2 separate regions of the Homo sapiens genome follow, and region 1 is linked to region 2. The links come from fine-mapping of genetic effects on gene expression. A gene starts in region 2. The other region holds a variant in brackets. All regions are shown on one strand. Distances are between the middles of the regions. Region 1 overlaps TLE6 (TLE family member 6, subcortical maternal complex member). Region 2 holds the start of GNA11 (G protein subunit alpha 11).

What was found. PIP is the estimated chance that this variant, and not a neighbour inherited with it, causes the effect. A credible set is the group of variants that fine-mapping cannot tell apart.
Region 1: its variant is the best candidate, but not a certain one, in a credible set for the expression of GNA11 in whole blood (INTERVAL, PIP 0.59).

What each region holds. Positions count from the first base shown.
Region 1 is chr19:2,985,049-2,993,371 of GRCh38, reverse strand. It overlaps TLE6 (TLE family member 6, subcortical maternal complex member), which reads right to left. Exons shown (of 17, transcript NM_001143986.2): 6 at 6,481-6,543; 7 at 6,134-6,389; 8 at 6,000-6,016; 9 at 5,582-5,648; 10 at 5,398-5,474; 11 at 5,244-5,281; 12 at 4,059-4,311; 13 at 3,587-3,837; 14 at 1,388-1,529. Among named protein-coding and RNA genes, the nearest start is that of TLE6, 12 kb to the right of the region's middle. The variant G/A (reference allele first, on the strand shown) is at 4,858.
Region 2 is chr19:3,089,464-3,097,786 of GRCh38, reverse strand. GNA11 (G protein subunit alpha 11) reads right to left here and starts at 3,425. Exons shown (of 7, transcript NM_002067.5): 1 at 3,000-3,425. The coding sequence starts at 3,135. RefSeq lists enhancers at 659-1,646, 1,647-2,632, 2,633-3,620 and silencers at 1,673-1,762, 2,917-3,046, 3,367-3,486, 3,507-3,756.

The sequences.
Region 1 (8,323 bases), 100 kb after region 2:
AGGCAGGAGCCTGGGGACCTATCCTGGAGGCCGGGTGACTGACCCCTTCCTAGCTGTGCAGCCCTGGGACAAGCAACTTCGTATCTGTGCCTCAGTTTGTTGGTGTGTAAAATGGAGAGTCTTCCCTACTTTGCACCTGATACAGCATGAGTGTTTATTTTGAGACGGAGTCTCGCTCTGTTGCCGGGCTGGAGTACAATGGTACGATCTCGGCTTACGACAACGTCTGCCTCCTGGGGTTTAAGCGATTCTCCCGCCTCAGCCTCTTGAGTAGCTGGGACTACAGGCATGCGCCACCATGCCTGGCTAATTATTCTGTTTTTTTTTTTTTTTTTTTTTTTTTTTAGTAGAGACGGGGTTTCACCATGTTGGTCAGGCTGTTCTTGAACTTCTGACCTCAAATGATCCACCCGCCTTGGCCTCCCAAAGGGCTGGGATTACAGGCGTGAGACACTGCGCCCGGCCTGCAAAGAATATTTCTAATGATCTCTGTGTTTGGAGCATCAGTGAGACTTAGAACCACTACCTTTTTTCCTTCCCAGAGTTCATCCTCCCCCCCCCCCACCCGCCTCCCCCCCTTTTTTTTTTTTTTGAGACAGGGTCTCACTCTGTCACCCAGGCTGGACTACAGTCACTGGTATGATCACAGTTCACTGTGGCCTCAGCCTCCCCGGGCTCAAGCCATTCTCTCACCTCAGCCTCCCAACTAGCTGCGACCCCAGGTACGTGCCACCATGCTCAGCTAATTTTTATTTTTATTTTTTGTAGAAACAGGGTCTCACTATGTTGCCCAGGCTGGTCTCAAACTCCTGGGCTCAAGTCTTCCTCCCACTTCTGCCTCCCAAAGTGGTGGGATTGCAGGCATACGCCACTGTGCCTGGCCAACCTCATTTGTTTTTGAGACAGAGTTTCGCTCTTATTGCGCAGCCTGGAGTGCAATGGCACGATCTCGGCTCACCACAACCTCCACCTCCCGGGTTTAAGCGATTCTCCTGCCTCAGCCTCCCGACTAGCTGGGATTATAGGCATGTGCCACCATGCCTGGCCAATTTTGTATTTTTAGTAGAGACGGGGTTTCACCATGTTGGTCAGGCTCGTCTTGAACTCCCGACCTCAGGTGATTTGCCCTCCTCGGCCTCCAAAAGTGCTGGGATTACAGGTGTGAGCCTCTGCGCCCAGCTCTGATTTTTGTATTTTTAGTGGAGATGGGGTTTCACTATGTTGGCCACGCTGGTCTCAAACTCCTGACCTCAGGTGATCCACCCACCTTGGCCTCCCAAAGTGCTAGGATTATAGGCGTGAGCCACGGAGCCCGGCCTCAACCTCATTTTTTAATCTGAGGACCAGAGGATGCCTGGCCAAGCAGACCCCATCCCGGCCTCCGCACCTGAGACTTGAATTGGTACTCCAGAGGTTTCATGATGGTCCTCTGGTCCCAGCACCGCAGACAGGCATCCGGACCCCCAGTCCAGATGTTGTAGCCCTTGACCACGATACTCTTGACTCCATCAGGATAACCCTTGAGGTCCCTGGCCAGAAGGGACATCGGGAGGCAATCAGGTCAAGACTCTGAGGTTTGGGCCCCCGGAAACACCAGTCACTACATTTGGGCATGAAAGGGACAGTGCCACCACCCAAAAATCTCTGCCTGCACAGAGTGTCAAAGTTGGCAGAAAACAGACACAGGATCTAGTGCCGGCCCCTCCCAGCCCTCAGCCTCCCTTCTCCGTCCGCCTGGGCCTCCCCTTGGCCTCACCTAGGCCTCCCCTTGCCTCTTCCACCCTGAGTCCACCCGAGCTCTGAGGCAGGTCTACAGGAATCCCTTCAAGCAGGGAAGGGGAATAGTGCCGGGCGGGTGGTGTGCTGTATTTTACGTCAGCCATTGCTTCCTGCAAACATATGCTGATAGATATCTTATATGTTATAAATACATATATTATATATATGTGTGTGTGTGTGTGTGTGTGTGTGTGTGTATATATATATATATATATACGTATTTTTTTTTTTTTTGAAATGGAGTCTCGTTTTGTTGCCCAGGCTGGAGTGCAGCAGCACGATCTCAGCTCACTGCAACCTCTGCCTCCTGGGTTCAAGCGATTCTCCTGCCTCAGCCTCCCGAGTAGCTGGCATTACAGGCATGGGCCACCACGCCTGACTAATTTTGTATTTTTAGTAGAGATGGGGTATCTCCATGTTAGCCTGGTCTCAAACTCCCGACCTCAGGTGATCTGCCCGCCTCGGCTTCCCAAAGTGCTGGGATTACAGGCATGAGCCACCATGCCCAGCCTATTTACATATATTTAATATGTGTGTGTGTATACATATATGTATGTATGTATGTATGTATGTATGTATGTATGTAAAATTTTTTTTTGAGTCAGAGTCTCACTCTGTGACCCAGGCTGGAGTGCAGTGGCACCATCTTGGCTCACCACAAACTCCGCTTCTCAAGCGATTCTCCTGCCTCAGCCTCCGGGGTAGCTGGGATTACAGGCATGTGCCACCACGCCGGCTAATTTTCATATTTTTTAGTAGAGAGGGGGTTTCGCCATGTTGGCCAGGCTGGTCTTGAGCTCCTGGCCTCAAGTGATCCACCCACCTCGGCCTCCCAAAGTGCTGGGATTACAGGTGTGAGACACCGCACCCAGACTGTTTTTTATATATGTATATATTTATGTATATATTTATGTATATATTTATGTATATATTTATGTATTTATATATATATTTATTTATATATGTGTGTATTTTTTTTTCTTTTTTGAGACAGAGTCTTGCTCTGTCGCCCAGGCTGGGAACGCAGTGGCACAGATCTCGGCTCACCGCAAGCTCCGCCTCCCGGGTTCAAGGGATTCTCCTGCCTCAGCCTCCCGAGTAGCTGGGACTACAGGTACCCACCACCGCGCCTGGCTAATTTTTTTGTAGTTTTAGTAGAGACAGGGTTTCACCGTGTCAGCTAGAATGGTCTTGATCTCCTGACCTCGTGGATCTGCCTGCCTCGGCCTCCCTAACTGCTGGGAGTACAGGCGTGAGCCACTGCGCCCGGCCAATTTATATATACATATTTTTAAATAGACTATATAAAAATTCTATTTAATTTTTATTAAATAAAATTTATTCTATTTAATAAAAATAGAATAAATTCGTTTTATTCATTACCCAGGTTAATCTCGAATTCCTGGGCTTAAGCATTTGTCCCGTCTTGACCTCCCAAAGTGCTGGGTTTACATGTTTGAGGCACCAGGCCTGGCCTGCTGTTTTATATTTTTACAACAAATTTGCCCTCTAACAAGCCTTTGAGTTTGGGGCTGTCACATCCTGTGTCCAGGTGGGGAAACTGAGGCAGACAAAAAGTAAAATGCCCTGGGCTGCAAGGAACGCAGTCCAGCCAAGATTCAAGTCCGCACCTCTAAACTTTCTCAAATCCAAGTTCAAGGGGGCAAGGGGTTTTGGCTGGGAGAGTGCTATATCCCAGGTTCAGGAGGTGGCAGGAAGGCGGGCAGAGGTGGTAGCAGTAAGGTGGGCAGAGGTGGCCACAGGAGGCTGGCACAGGATGCTTCCCCTTCCCACCCCCCAAACGCACCTGACCACACTCTGATCCCGCAGGTCCCAGATCCTGACCACACCACTGGTGAAGCTGGCGAAGGCCAGGTTGGCATCCAGGTTGGCATCCAGGGCCTGGCAGTTGAGACCTGCACAGGGCAACTGCTCCTTCACATGCAGGGAGGGCGCCGCCAGGTCCCACACGCTCACGCTGGCCAGGTTGTAGCCACCGGTGAGCAGGCTCCTGCTGTTTGAGGACAGCAGGCAGGTGCGCAGGAAGGCCCCAGGGGTCTGGGATGGGCAGAGTCACTGTGAGCTGTCGCCCCCCGTGGCATTCTGCCTGGACTGCTTTGCCTCATGAGAGCGAACTCCTATTCATCCTTTAGGTTCCTAGCTATTATGCCCCTTTTCCCTGGAAGCCCTCTCTCCACGATCTGGGCTCTGCCAGACTCAAACCTCAAACCCCCTGTTCCCAGAAGCCCTGCATCCCTGGAAACCAAGGCCGTCCTCACCTGTATAGGCAGGTGGCTCTCAGGGAACCTGTCCTCAGCCACCTGTCCAGTCAGGCTCCACACCTTGATGCCTCTTCTGCCACAGGTGAACACGTGCCGCGTGAAGCTGCTGATGGCCGTGGCGAGCACGAGCTCCCCGTGTGCCAAGATCCGCATCTTTTCCAGTTTGCACGGGACGGCGAGTCTCTTTGACTGCCCGGGCAAGGCATCTGGCCTCTTCCATGCATCTTCAAAGTCCTCAGGGTCCCAGGATCTTGGGAGGGGAGGCCTTGGGGTAACTGACCTGCTTGTGAGCCCCTTTGCCCAGTGGGAGCCACACATCAAGGCCTAGAGGGGCTTCTTTTTCAGATTTTGGGGTCCCTCTCTCAGGCCTTGTTTTACCCTCTAGACTCCCCTCAATGTCCTGCTCATATTCCTTCAAGTATTGTCCCTTTGCCACAGCCCTCCACATACTTCTGCCTTCTTCCTAGACTGCTTTGCCCCAGGAGGAAGAACTCCTATTCATCCTTTATGGTCCTAGCTATTATGCTCCTTCCCCAGAAAAGCCTTCTTTGCCCCACCTGGGTTCTCCCAGCATCACTCCACAAGGTTGGGACAATCTGCATCCAGTTCTAACACAGCTACACCCCATCCCCTTCCATGAAAAAGTCTTCCCCAAATGCCTTGAGCCCAGTGTTGGGGCGGCGATCCTGTGAGCCTAACACTGCACTTTTTTTTTGAGACGGAGTCTTGCTGTCACTCAGGCTGGAGTGCAGTGGCGCGATCTCAACTCACTGCAACCTCCACCTCCCGGGTTCAC[G/A]CCATTCTCCTGCCTCAGCCTCCCGAGTAGCTGGGACTAAAGGCACCCACCACCACGCCTGGCTAATTTTTTTTGTATTTTTAGTAGAGACGGGGTTTCACCGTGTTACCCAGGATGTTCTCAATCTCCTGACCTCGTGATCTGCCCGCCTCGGCCTCCCAAAGTGCTGGGATTACAGGCGTGAGCCACCGCGCCCGGCCTAACACTGCACTTTTCTACCCAGCCTCTGCAGCGGCTGTTGGAGAGGATGGCAGAGTAGTGATGGGAAAAGGGGAAGAAAGTCTTACACCTCTGTTCCCCTCTATGTGTCGGGAACAGAGGTATAGACAGGAAGGAATTCCCGCTGCCCCTCACCCCGCCCAAAAGCAAACAGTGCAGACACTTACATGGACTGTAGAAACCGAGAGGCTCTTCCAGGAGGCTCCTGCAGGCGGGGGAGATCACAGCTGCCCCCAGCCTCCCCGCACATCTGTGCCCACCTCCTCTACCCCACCCTGGGCAGCCTTCACGCTGGGCTACCAGCTCGGGCCTGGGTCTCACCTGGACCACACCCCAACTTGTGTTCCTGTCTTGGGAACCCTCAGGGGGACTGGAGGAGGCCTCAGGTGGCCTGGGGGCTAGTGGGGAGACAAGAGGGGCTAAGCGGCTTGCATTGGCTCCTCAGCACAGGATGCCCCCACCCCATCCCGCCTGGAGTCGGTCGGCCCCTGCCCGCTGGGATTACTGGAGGCATCTTCAGGACATGGGTCTGTTCCTGGGTCACAGGATCCTGGTGCCTTGCTTTCCTGCCCCTGGAAAATGGAAAAGTCTCATCAGGCCTGCTGACCTGCCTGTTAGGACCAGAAGACCTCGGATTCCTGGGCAGCTTGCACAGGGCTTGTCAGCTGCCTGGGGTCCTGTCTGCGGGTCCAGGCAGAGTTGCAGAGAGAGAGTCAGGGTATAGGGTCCTGGAAGCCCTGGGCTGTGGGTCCTGGGCTACTCCAGTATAGCCTCCTGGATCACCCAAGTCCCCCCCGGGGGACCCGAGGGGCAGGATGGAAGGAAGACAAATCCCACAGGAACCCCAGTGCCCTGACCTGGGGGAGCCCAACCGCCTGCCCGGAAGCCCACCCCTCTGGATAGAGCTGAGGTTGTTTACTCACCAGGCCTGGTGCCTGCTCTGTCACCATGACAACGGAGAGGAGGAGGGGGACAGAGAGAACAGCAGGGTTCACTGCACAGCCCCTGAGACGCAGCCTGTGGCTGCCCCTTCCCCCTCACCCTCAGGGACACTCACGTCTGTCTCTGGGCTTTGCCTTCTCATCGTGGACGCCGGCAAAAATCCGCCAGAGTTGCTCGGTCAGAGTGTCGTGCCAAAACCAAGGCTCCTTGTCCCAGAACAGCTGGGTCTCCGGCTGATTGTCCTCCCCCAAAGGCCGCCGGAGCCAGTCGGAGGACCTGGTGGCCATGATGTCCTCAAAGCTCGACTCCTGCAGGGTCTTGTCCTTCACCTGCTGGGGCGTCCCAGGGCTGGCTGGTTCAGCAGGTGAGACCTGGCCCGGCAGGAACAAGGCAGTGAGAGCTTTGAGGATGAGCCTTCACCCAAGCCTGTCCCCTCCCCTCCTTGAAGACCCAGAAACTCACCTCCTCAGACTGGAAACCCTGGAGTTGGCTGCAGCTCTCCACAATCTGTAAGACGTTTCCTATCTAGAAGGAGGTTGGCAGCAAAACAGTTAAATGTTGTTGCAGTTAAGGGTTTGCAATCCTACAGCATGATTATCCCCACCTGTAGAAGAAGGTATATCAATCTACTTGTTTTTTTGAGACAGAGTCTCACTCTGTCACCCAAGCTGGAGTGCAGTGGTGCAATCTCGGCTCACTGCAACCTCCGCCTCCCAGGTTCAAGTGGTTCTCCTGCCTCAGCCTCCTGAGTAGCTGGGATTACAGGTGCACACCACCACACCCAGCTAATTTTTGTATTTTTAGTAAAGATGGGGTTTCACCATGTTGGCCAGGCTGGTCTCCAACTCCTGACCTCAGGTGATCTGCCCACCTCAGCCTCCCAAAGTGCTGGGATTATAGGCATAAGCCACCACCCCCAGCCTTCATCTACTTTTTTGCAGATAAGATCTCACTCTGACACCCAGGCTGGAGTGCAGTGGTGCGATTACAGCTCACTGCACCCTCAACCTCCCAGGCTCAAGTGATCCTCCCATCTCAGCCTCCTGAGTAGCTGGGGTTACAGGTATGCACCACCACGCTCAGCTAATTTAAATACACTTTTTGTAGAAATGGGAGTCTCATTATGTTGGCCAGGCTGGTCTTGAATTCCTGGCCTCAAACTATCCTCCCACGTGTGCCTCCCAAAGTGCTGGGATAACAGGTTTAAGCCACCGCATCCGGCCTATCGCACCTGGCATATATCTTTTTTTTTTTTTTTTTTTTTTTTTTTTTTTTTTTTTTTGAGACAGTCTCACGCTGTGGCCCAGGCAGGAGTGCAGTGATGTGATCTCGGCTCACTGCAACCTCCGCCTCCTGGGTTCAAGCAATTCTCCTGCCTCAGCCTCCCAAGTAGCTGGATTACAGGCGTGTGCCACTACACAGACTGATTTTTGTATTTTTGGTGGAGACAGGGTTTCACCATGTTGGCCGGGCTGGTCTTGAACTCTTGACCTAAGATGATTCTCCTGCCTTGGCCTCCCAAAGTGCTGGGATTACAGGTGTGAGCCACCACACCTGGCCCCAGCTACTCTTTTTGGGATGTTTTAAAAAGAAAACCTGACCACCACCACACTTTGCTTCAAATGACTTCAAGCAGGCCGGGTGCGGTGGCTCACGCCTGTAATCCCAGCACTCTGGGAGGCCGAGGCGGGCGGATCATGAGGTCAGGAGATTGAGACCATCCTGGCTAACATGGTGAAACTCCATCTCTACTAAAAATACAAAAAAAAAAAAAAAAATTAGCCAGGCATGGTGGCAGGTGCCTGTAGTCCCAGCTACTCGGGAGGCTGAGGCAGGAGAATGGCTTGAACCCAGGAGGCGGAGCTTGCAGTGAGCCCAGATGCGAGATGATGCCACCGCACTCCAGCCTGGGTGACAGAGCGAGACTTGTCTCAAAAAAAAAAAAAAAAAAAAAGGCTTCAAGCAGCAAAACAGCATACCTAGGTCTCCCTAGGTGAGGAAGACGTTTTAATTTGCTTAAACTTTGGAAAGATACTAAGAAACTGAGGGTTACCTGCTGGGGAGAATTGATAGAAACAAGTCAGTGGTAATTTTTTTTTCTCTTTTGAGACAGTCTTGCTCTGTCGCCCAGGCTGGAGTGCAATGGCACCACCTCTGCTCACTGTAACCTCTGCCTCCTGGGTTAAAGCAATTCTCCTGCCTCAGGCTCCCAAGTAGCTGGGATTACAGGCACCCGCCACCATGCCCAGCTAATTTTGTATTTTTAGTAGAAATGGGGTTTCTCCATGTTGGCCAGGCTGGTCTC
Region 2 (8,323 bases):
CTGTTGTACGTAACGGAGAGGCCCATCTGAGGCGTGAACAGCACATTTTAGCCGCCGCGGGAGAGGCGGCACGGCAGCCGGAGCCCCGTCCAGCTCTAGGGCTCCGTAAGGTCCCCCCCACCCCGAAAACGGGGCACGGAATGTCCTCGCCAGGCTGACCGACCTCACAGGCCGTGTGCAGCCCCAGGGAGGCAGTGGATGAGAGCGAGCAGACGCGGCGTTCTTCCAGAACATGCTCCACCTGGTTGCAAACCCAGGAGTCAGGGCAGGGCCCTGGAGCCCTGCTGCCCCAGAGCCTGGAAGAAACCAGCACCACCCACATAAACGAGACCCTCCTGGGCCCCAGATGCCACAGGGGTGTGGTGGCAGGCCCCTGCCTCCCTCCCCGACATCCACTCCACAACGCTGTACGGGAGCCATGGGGGAGGAGGGATGGAGCCCCCACTGCTAAGGGGCAGGGGAGGAAAGAATTCTAGGGAGAGGCAGACCCAGCTTGGCTGGGCCTCCTGCGGAGTGCCAGGACCTCCACCCAGAGGTCTCTGAACATTCCGTGGGCCGCAGGCGCCATAGCCACCTGCTGCAGCCCAACAGCCCCTTCCTTCCGGGGAGCCTCGGCCCCACCCTCTAGCTGCTCCCTGAAAAACGGGGGCAATCGCAAGCTCGGGGCTGGCCTACTGGGAGAGTGGAATGAGTTCCCACAAGCAGGCAGGGAGCCTGACAGAGGTCCCCTCCCCTGCACCCTGAGGCCCCAGCCCCTGGACCTCAGGTGGTCAAAGTCCTCCCAGCAAGGGGCCCTCCAGCTGGGATGCAAGGTTGCTTGGACGGGAAGTTTTCTGAGGGTCTGTCGCATCAGATTCCCAAAGGGGTCCCTGGCTCCAACACCTTGGGTGTGAAGCCCTCCCAACCCCCTGACAGCCCCGGCTCTCTGCGTGGCACTGACACCAGTCCTCCTTGGGTCGCACGTGAGCTCACATCTTCCTCACTGTCCTATCTGCCACGCCTGGCCCTGAGCCTGACAGCAACCTCCCGTCTTACAGGCTGATAGGGGTCAACTTTCAGGCTCACAGAGTGGGAGGGGGTGGGACTGCAGACACAGGTGCTCCTGCAGCAGACACCCCCGGGCCACAGGCGGGCACTGGACAGAGGATGCGGGAAGGGCCGCATCACTTCCAGACTTGCTCCAAGCAGCCAAGGCGGCAGACACGGGAGCCCCTGACCTTCGTCCTTGAACCCCGTGTCAATCTCAAGTCCAAAGTGCAGGCACAGAAGACCGGGTGCATGCAGGGATGGCGGCGGGGGTTCTGGAGGTCACAGAGCCACAGGGCAAGGCCATCTGGTAAGATCTTTATGACACCAGTAATTCCTAACTCCCCTCCATCCAAACAAAGTCCACGACCCACTACAAAAGCCAGCCAGTGCCACTCTGTGCAAAGTGCCACCACGCGGGCCGCACTGCACATTTCCTCCAAACGTGAGGACCACGGCTCTGCCTACCCGCGGCCCCCTGGAAAGATGGCCCATTTTAGAACCCTTAGGTAAATCAAAACACAAGTTTGGGGAAAAAAATCAGGAAGGCGTTTCATCCAAGGCACCTCTGTAACCCGGGACACGGAGGGCCCTAAGAGGCTCACGGCAGGAGAGGCAACGTGTTCCCCACACAACATGCGACCTGCCTCCTCCCCAAGAGCCACCGCCACCAGCACGCCCCCTCCTCCGTCACCGCTGCCTCTCACGCATTTCCGACCTTCCCCACCGCCCCGCCCCCGGCCCAGGAGCTAACCTAGGAGCTCGGGAGGGCAGGGGCGGGGCAGGGCAAGAGCTTCTGTTTTGTAAACCACTGAAGGGGCCCTTATTTGGAGTGACAACACTTTACAGCTGGCCCGACTGGCTCCCTGCAGCAGGTGTGCCTTGGGGAGAAGGAGGTTCACCAGCAAACCTTCTCCAGGACGGTGGGGAGGAGCCGGCAGGTGGGGGGCTGCTCTCAACGAGGACTCAGCGTGGCTCCCACCAGGACTCTAAGGAAGGGGGCGGGGGAGGCTGCCGAGATAGCTGCTTGGGACAACAAGCAAAGGCTCCCTCAGGTGTCAACCGCCCCACCCTCAGCTGAGCGGAACCCTGAGGAGAGGAAAGACTGTCTTTTTCCCACAGGGTGCATTCCAGCCAAGAGGAGTACGGGGTTTCCCGGAACAGGAAGGCAGGAGAATGGCCCTGAAGGGAATGTGGGGATAGGGGACACGGAGGAGTCTTCGGGGGGATGGGGGGGTGTACAGGGCCTGCATGGAGGGTACAGGGCCTGCATGGAGTGTACAGGGCTCTGCCTGGAGGGAAGGGTCAACGCGGGGCCCTGAGCAGTGAGGGGTGAGTGTGCCCTGTGGGTTACAGCCCAAAGGTCTGGCCCTGAAGGGGTAGCGAGGGGTGGGTACTCCGGTGGGGTAAGGTCAGAAGGTCCCTGTGCAGGGAGGGACTGGTCCCTTGAGAAGGAACAGAGGGCAAATCCTGAAGAGTCCTGGAGGCCCAATGTAGACAGCAGAAGCTGGGAGCTGACCTAGGAGTGATCGGGGGCCTGATCCAGACAGGACAGACACAGGCTGACACCGGAGAGTCCCAGGTGCCAACATGAACAGTTAAGGCAGGGGCTGACCCCAAAGAAATCAGGGGCCCGCAGCTGACCCCGGAGGGTCCCAGGTGCCGACCTAGACAGCAAAGGCAGGGCTGACCCCAGAGGGTCCCGAGCCGACCCAGACGACACAGGCAGGGCTGATCCCGGAGGGCCCCGCCCCGACCCGGACAGGCAGTGAAGGCACAGGCAGGGCTGACACTCGAGGGTCCCGCGACCCGGACAGGCAGGGAAGGCACAGGCAGGGCTGACCCCGGAGGGTCTCGCGACCCGGACGGCACAGGCAGGGCTGACCCCGGAGGGTCCCGGCCCGACCCGGACAGGCAGGGCAGGCACAGGCAGGGCAGGGCCCGCAGCCGGCAGGCCCGGGGGCCGCACTCACCGAGCAGCAGCAGCTTGAGCTCGCGCCGGGCGTCGCGCTTGTCCCGCCGCAGCTGCTTCTCGATCTCGGCGTTGATCCGCTTGGACTCCTTCACCTCATCGCTCAGGCAACACGCCATCATGGACTCCAGAGTCATCGTCCCGGCCCCGGCCGACGCGGCCGCCTGCCCGCCGCCGCCCCCCGGCCCCCGGCCCGGCCCTGGCCGGAGCCGCCTCGGCCGCCGCCCGCCGCGGCCCTCCGGCCTCGGCCACCGGCCCTCGGCCCCGGGCCGGCCCGCCCCGCCTCGGCCGCCGCCTGGCGAGCCGCCGGGTCCCCGCTCGGGCCGCGCCAGCCGCGGACTCCCGCGCGGCCGCACTCAGCCCGCGCCGCCGCCGCAGCCACCGCCAACCGCAGCCGCCGCAACCGAGCGACAGCGCCGGACAACCTAGCAGGCTGGGAGCGCAGCCCGCGACGGGCAGACGGTGCGGCCAATGGGAGGGGCCGGCGGCCAAGCGCGCCCACCATGGGGGCGGGACTAGCGGCCTGGGCGGGGCGTCGGCGGGCGCGAAAGGGGCGGGGCGGGGCGAGGGCGGGGGGCCCGCGGGTTTGGTTGCGCCGACGTGGGAAGGGGGACGCGCAGCCGGGAGCCGGGGCGGGGCCGCCCGGGATTGTGGGAATGTGGCGGACTCGGCCCGGCCAGGCTCGGCTCCGCTCGGCTCCGTTCGGCCCCGCTCGGTCCCGCTCGGCTCGGCCCAGGCGCGGTGGCGGAGGCGCGCACGCGGCCGCTGCGCTCTCTGGGTCTCCAGGTGCCTGGGCAGCAGTCGCTGCCCCCGGGAAGCGCCCTGACATTGCCTGACAGGAACCTTCACTCATCCATTAAAAAGCGTTAATGGAGGTCGGGCGCGGTGGCTCACGCCTGTAATCCCAGCACTTTGGAAGGCCGAGGCGGGCGGATCACCTGAGGTCTGGAGTTCGAGACCAGCCTGACCAACAGGGAGAAACGCCGTCTCTACTAAAACTACAAAATTAGCCCGGCGTGGTGGTGCACGCCCGTAATCCCAGCTACTCGGGAGGCTGAGGCAGGAGAATCACTTGAACCCAGGAGGCGGAGGTTGCAGTGAGCCGAGATCACGCCATTGCACTCCAGCCTGGGCAACAAGAACGAAACTCCGTCTCCAAAGAAAAAAAAAAAAAAAGAGGGCCGGGCGCGGTGGCTCACGCCTGTAATCCCAGCACTTTGGGAGGCCGAGGCGGGTGGATCACGAGGTCAGGAGATCGAGACTATCCTGGCTGACACGGTGAAACCCCGTCTCTACTAAAAATACAAAAAATTAGCCGGGCGTGGTGGCGGGCGCCTGTAGTCCCAGCTACTCGGGAGGCTGAGGCAGGAGAATGGCGTGAACCCGGGAGACGGAACTTGCAGTGAGCTGAGATCATGCCACTGCACTCCAGCCTGGGCGACAGAGCGAGACTCTGTCTCAAAAAAAAAAATTAAAAAGCGTTAATGGGACACCTACTGTGTATCAGGCATTAATGGGACACATTCTATATGCCAGGCACGGACCAGAGATTAATGGAGTGCCTGCTGTCCATCAGGTGTCAATCAGGCCTTACTGCAGTGCCTGCACCATTCCAGGCCAGGTATACGCATTCATGAAATGCCTACAGGATACCAGGCACTGCTGTAAGCCCGTTAAGCTAACCCTACCCAAGGGATATCTTTTTTTTCTTCTTCTTTTTTTGAGATGGAGTCTTGCTCTGTCGCCCAGGCTGGAGTGCAGGGGCGTGATCTAGGTTCATTGCACCCTCTGCCTCACAGGCTCTAGTGATTCTCCTGCCTCACCCTCCCAAGTAGCTGGGATTACAGGCGCGCCACCATGCCTGGCTAATTTTGTATTTTTAGTAGAGAGCGGGTTTCGCCACGTTGGCCAGGCTGGTCTCAAACTCCTGGCCTCTAGTGATCTGCCCTCCTCGGCCTCCCAAAGCGCTGGGATTATAGATGTGAGCCACCTCACCCAGCCATATCTTTATCCTTACTTTGCAGATGAAATGGAAGTGGCCACCAGAATTTATAAAAACGTGTGTTCCCACCACCTTGCTGACTACTGAAAACCCTTTTCCCTCTCTGGCCTCCTTGGCCAACCCCTGAGCATCCTCTCCGTTTCAATTCAGACGTCAGCTCCTCAGGGAGACTTCTCCTGACTCCTCAGACCAAGCCAGGTACCTTCTCTTGAGCCACAACTTGAAATTGTATGTTCTGGCCAGGTGCGGCAGCTCCTGCCGGTAATCCCAGTACTTGGGAGGCCAAGGCAGGTGGACCGCTTGAGCTCAGGAGTTCGAGACCAGCCTAGATAACATGGCGAAACCCCATCTCTACTAAAAATACAAAAAATTAGATGGGTGTGGTGGCACATGCCTGTAATCCCAGCTACTCGGGAGGCTGAGAGGATCACTTGAGCCCAGGAGGCAGATGTTGCAGTGAGCGGAGATGGGGCTACTGCACTCCAGCCTGGGACACAAGAGTGAGACCCTGTATCAAAACAAAACAAAACAAAACACCAGAGTGGCCAACATGGTGAAACCCCCTCTCTACTAAAAATACAAAAATGACCCGGGCGTGGTGGCGGGCACCTGTGGTCTCAGCTACTTTTGCTGAGGCAGGAGAATCGCTTGAACCCGGGAGGCAGAGGTTGCAGGGAGCTGGGATCATACCACTGCATTCCAGCCAGGGCAACAGAACGAGACTCCGTCTCAAAAAAAAAAAAAAAAAAAGGCCGGGTGTGGTGGTTTATGCCTGTAATCCCAGCACTTTGGGAGGCCGAGGTGGGCAGATCACCTGAGATCGGGAGTTCAAGACCAGCCTGACCACCATGGAGAAACCCCGTCTCTACTGAAAATACAGAATTAGCCAGGCACGGTGGCTCATGCCTGTAATCCCAGCTACTTGGGAGACTGAGGCAGGAGAACCTCTTGAACCCGGGAGGCGGAGGTTGCAGTGAGCTGAGATCGCACCATTGCACTCCAGCCTGGGCAACAAGAGAGAAACTCCGTCCAAAAAAAAAAAAAAACAAAAAAGCAGGGTGTGGTGGCTCATGCCTGTAATCCCAGCACTTTGGAAGGCCAAGGCAGGCAGATCACTTGAGGTCAGCAGTTTGAGACCAGCCTGGCTAACATGGCAAAACCCTGTCTCTATTAAAAATACAAAAAAATTAGTGGACACCTGTAATCCCAGCTACTCGGGAGGCTGAGGCAGCAGAATCTCTTGAACCCAGGAGGTGGACGTTGCAGTGAGCCGAGACCACACCACTGCACTCCAGCCTGGGCGACAAGCGTGAAACTCCATCTCCAAAAAAAAAAAAGAAAGAAATTATATATTCTTCTGGGTGCCTCTCTGTAGACTCAGTTTCCCAAATTGGCCATCAGCTCCATGAGGTCAGAGCCTGTCTGGTTCACCTAGAACAAAGATTGGCAATCCACAACCCTCGGCCCTATGGTCCATAAGCTTCGAATGGCTTTTACTTTTTTTTTTTTTGAGACGGAGTCTTGCTCTGTCGCCCAGGCTGGAGTGTAGTGGCATGATGTCAGCTCACTACAAGCTCCGCCTCCCAGGTTCACGCCATTCTACTGCCTCAGCCTCCCGAGTAGCTGGGACTACGGCACCCGCCACCACGCCTGGCTAATTTTTTTGTTGTATTTTTTAGTAGAGATGGGGTTTCACCGTGTTAGCCAGGATGGCCTCAATCCCCTGACCTCGTGATCTGCCTGCCTCGGCCTCCTAAAGTGTTGGGATTACAGGCGTGAGCCACCGCGCCCAGCCTGGCTTTTACATTTTTAAACGGTTTTAAAAAATCAAAAGAAAGTAATATTTAGGTAGACATAAAAATTATATGGAACTCAAATTTCAGTGTCCATGTATAGGATTTTGTTGGAAGCCAGTCACATCCATTGATTTCCATACTGAGTGTGGCTACTCTTACCCCACAGGGCAGCATTACAAGAACTCTTCAAAGATTTCCTATGTGGTCCCTTACAGAAAGAGACCTAGAATGAGGCTCTAACACACACTAGGTGCTCAATCGATGTGTTTGGAATGATGGGAAAGGAATTAAAAAGCCTGGTCTGGGAAGAGTGGCTCATGCCTGTAATCCCAATACTTTGGGAGGCCAAGGCAGGAGGACTGCTTGAGGCCAGGAGTTTGAGACCAGCCTGGGCAGCATAGCAAGACCCCCACGTACACACCCTACAAAAGTAAAAATAAAATTTGCTGGGCACGGTGGCTCACGCCTGTCATCCCAGCACTTTGGGAGGCCAAGGCAGGCAGATGACCTGAGGTCAGGAGTTCAAGACCAGCCTGGCCAACATGGTGAAACCCCGTCTCTACTAAAAATACAAAAATTAGCCGGGCATGGTGGCTTGCACCTATATTCTCAGCTACTCCGGAGGCGGAGGCAGGAGAATCGCTTGAACCCAGGAGGTGGAGGTTGCAGTGAGCCGAGATCACACCAGGAGGTGGAAGTTGCAGTGAGCTGAGATCGCACCACTGCACTCCAGCCTGGGCGACACAGTGAGACTCCACCTCAAAAAATAAAATAAAATAATGAAATAAAATTAGCCGGGCATGGTAGCGTGTGCCTGTAGTCCCAGCTATTCAGGAGGCCAAGGTGGGAGGATCACTTGAGCCCAAGAAGTCAATGCTGCAGTGAGCCATGATTGCACCACTGCACTCCAGCCTGGGTAACAGAATAAGACCCTGTCTCAAAAACTGAAATTAAGGCAGGTGCAGTTGCTCACGCCTATAATCCCAGGACTTTGGGAGGCCAAGGCAGGAGGATCACTTGAGCCCAGGAGTTCAAGACCAGGGTCTCAACATAGTGAGACCCTGTCTCTACAAAAAAAAAAAAAAAAAAAAAAAAAAAAAGACAAAGGGAAGATACTAAAAATGAATACTAGAGCCTAGATTGTTCTTGGAGCTGGAAATTCATTTTAAAGAGGAGGAAACTGAGGCACCATTGCATACAACTTCGCTGACTGCCACGCCTCTCCCAGCCCCTGACACTGCCTGACCTCCCCACCACCTCCTCCCTCTACCTGGCCCTTCCCAGTTTCCAAATGTCAGGAGCCTATCCCTTATCCTCAGAGGTACACCTTGATAGACCCTTCTCCCTTGTCTTGAGATAAGAGGGCAAAGGGAGGGTCAAAGTCTCCGTTTATCAGTTCCTTGGGTGTGTGGGAAGATTAGCTCACTTTTTTTTTTTGAGACAGTCTTGCTCTGTCGCCCAGGCTGGAGTGCAATCAATGGCATGATCTCGGCTCACTGCAACCTCCACCTCCCAGGCTCAAGCAAT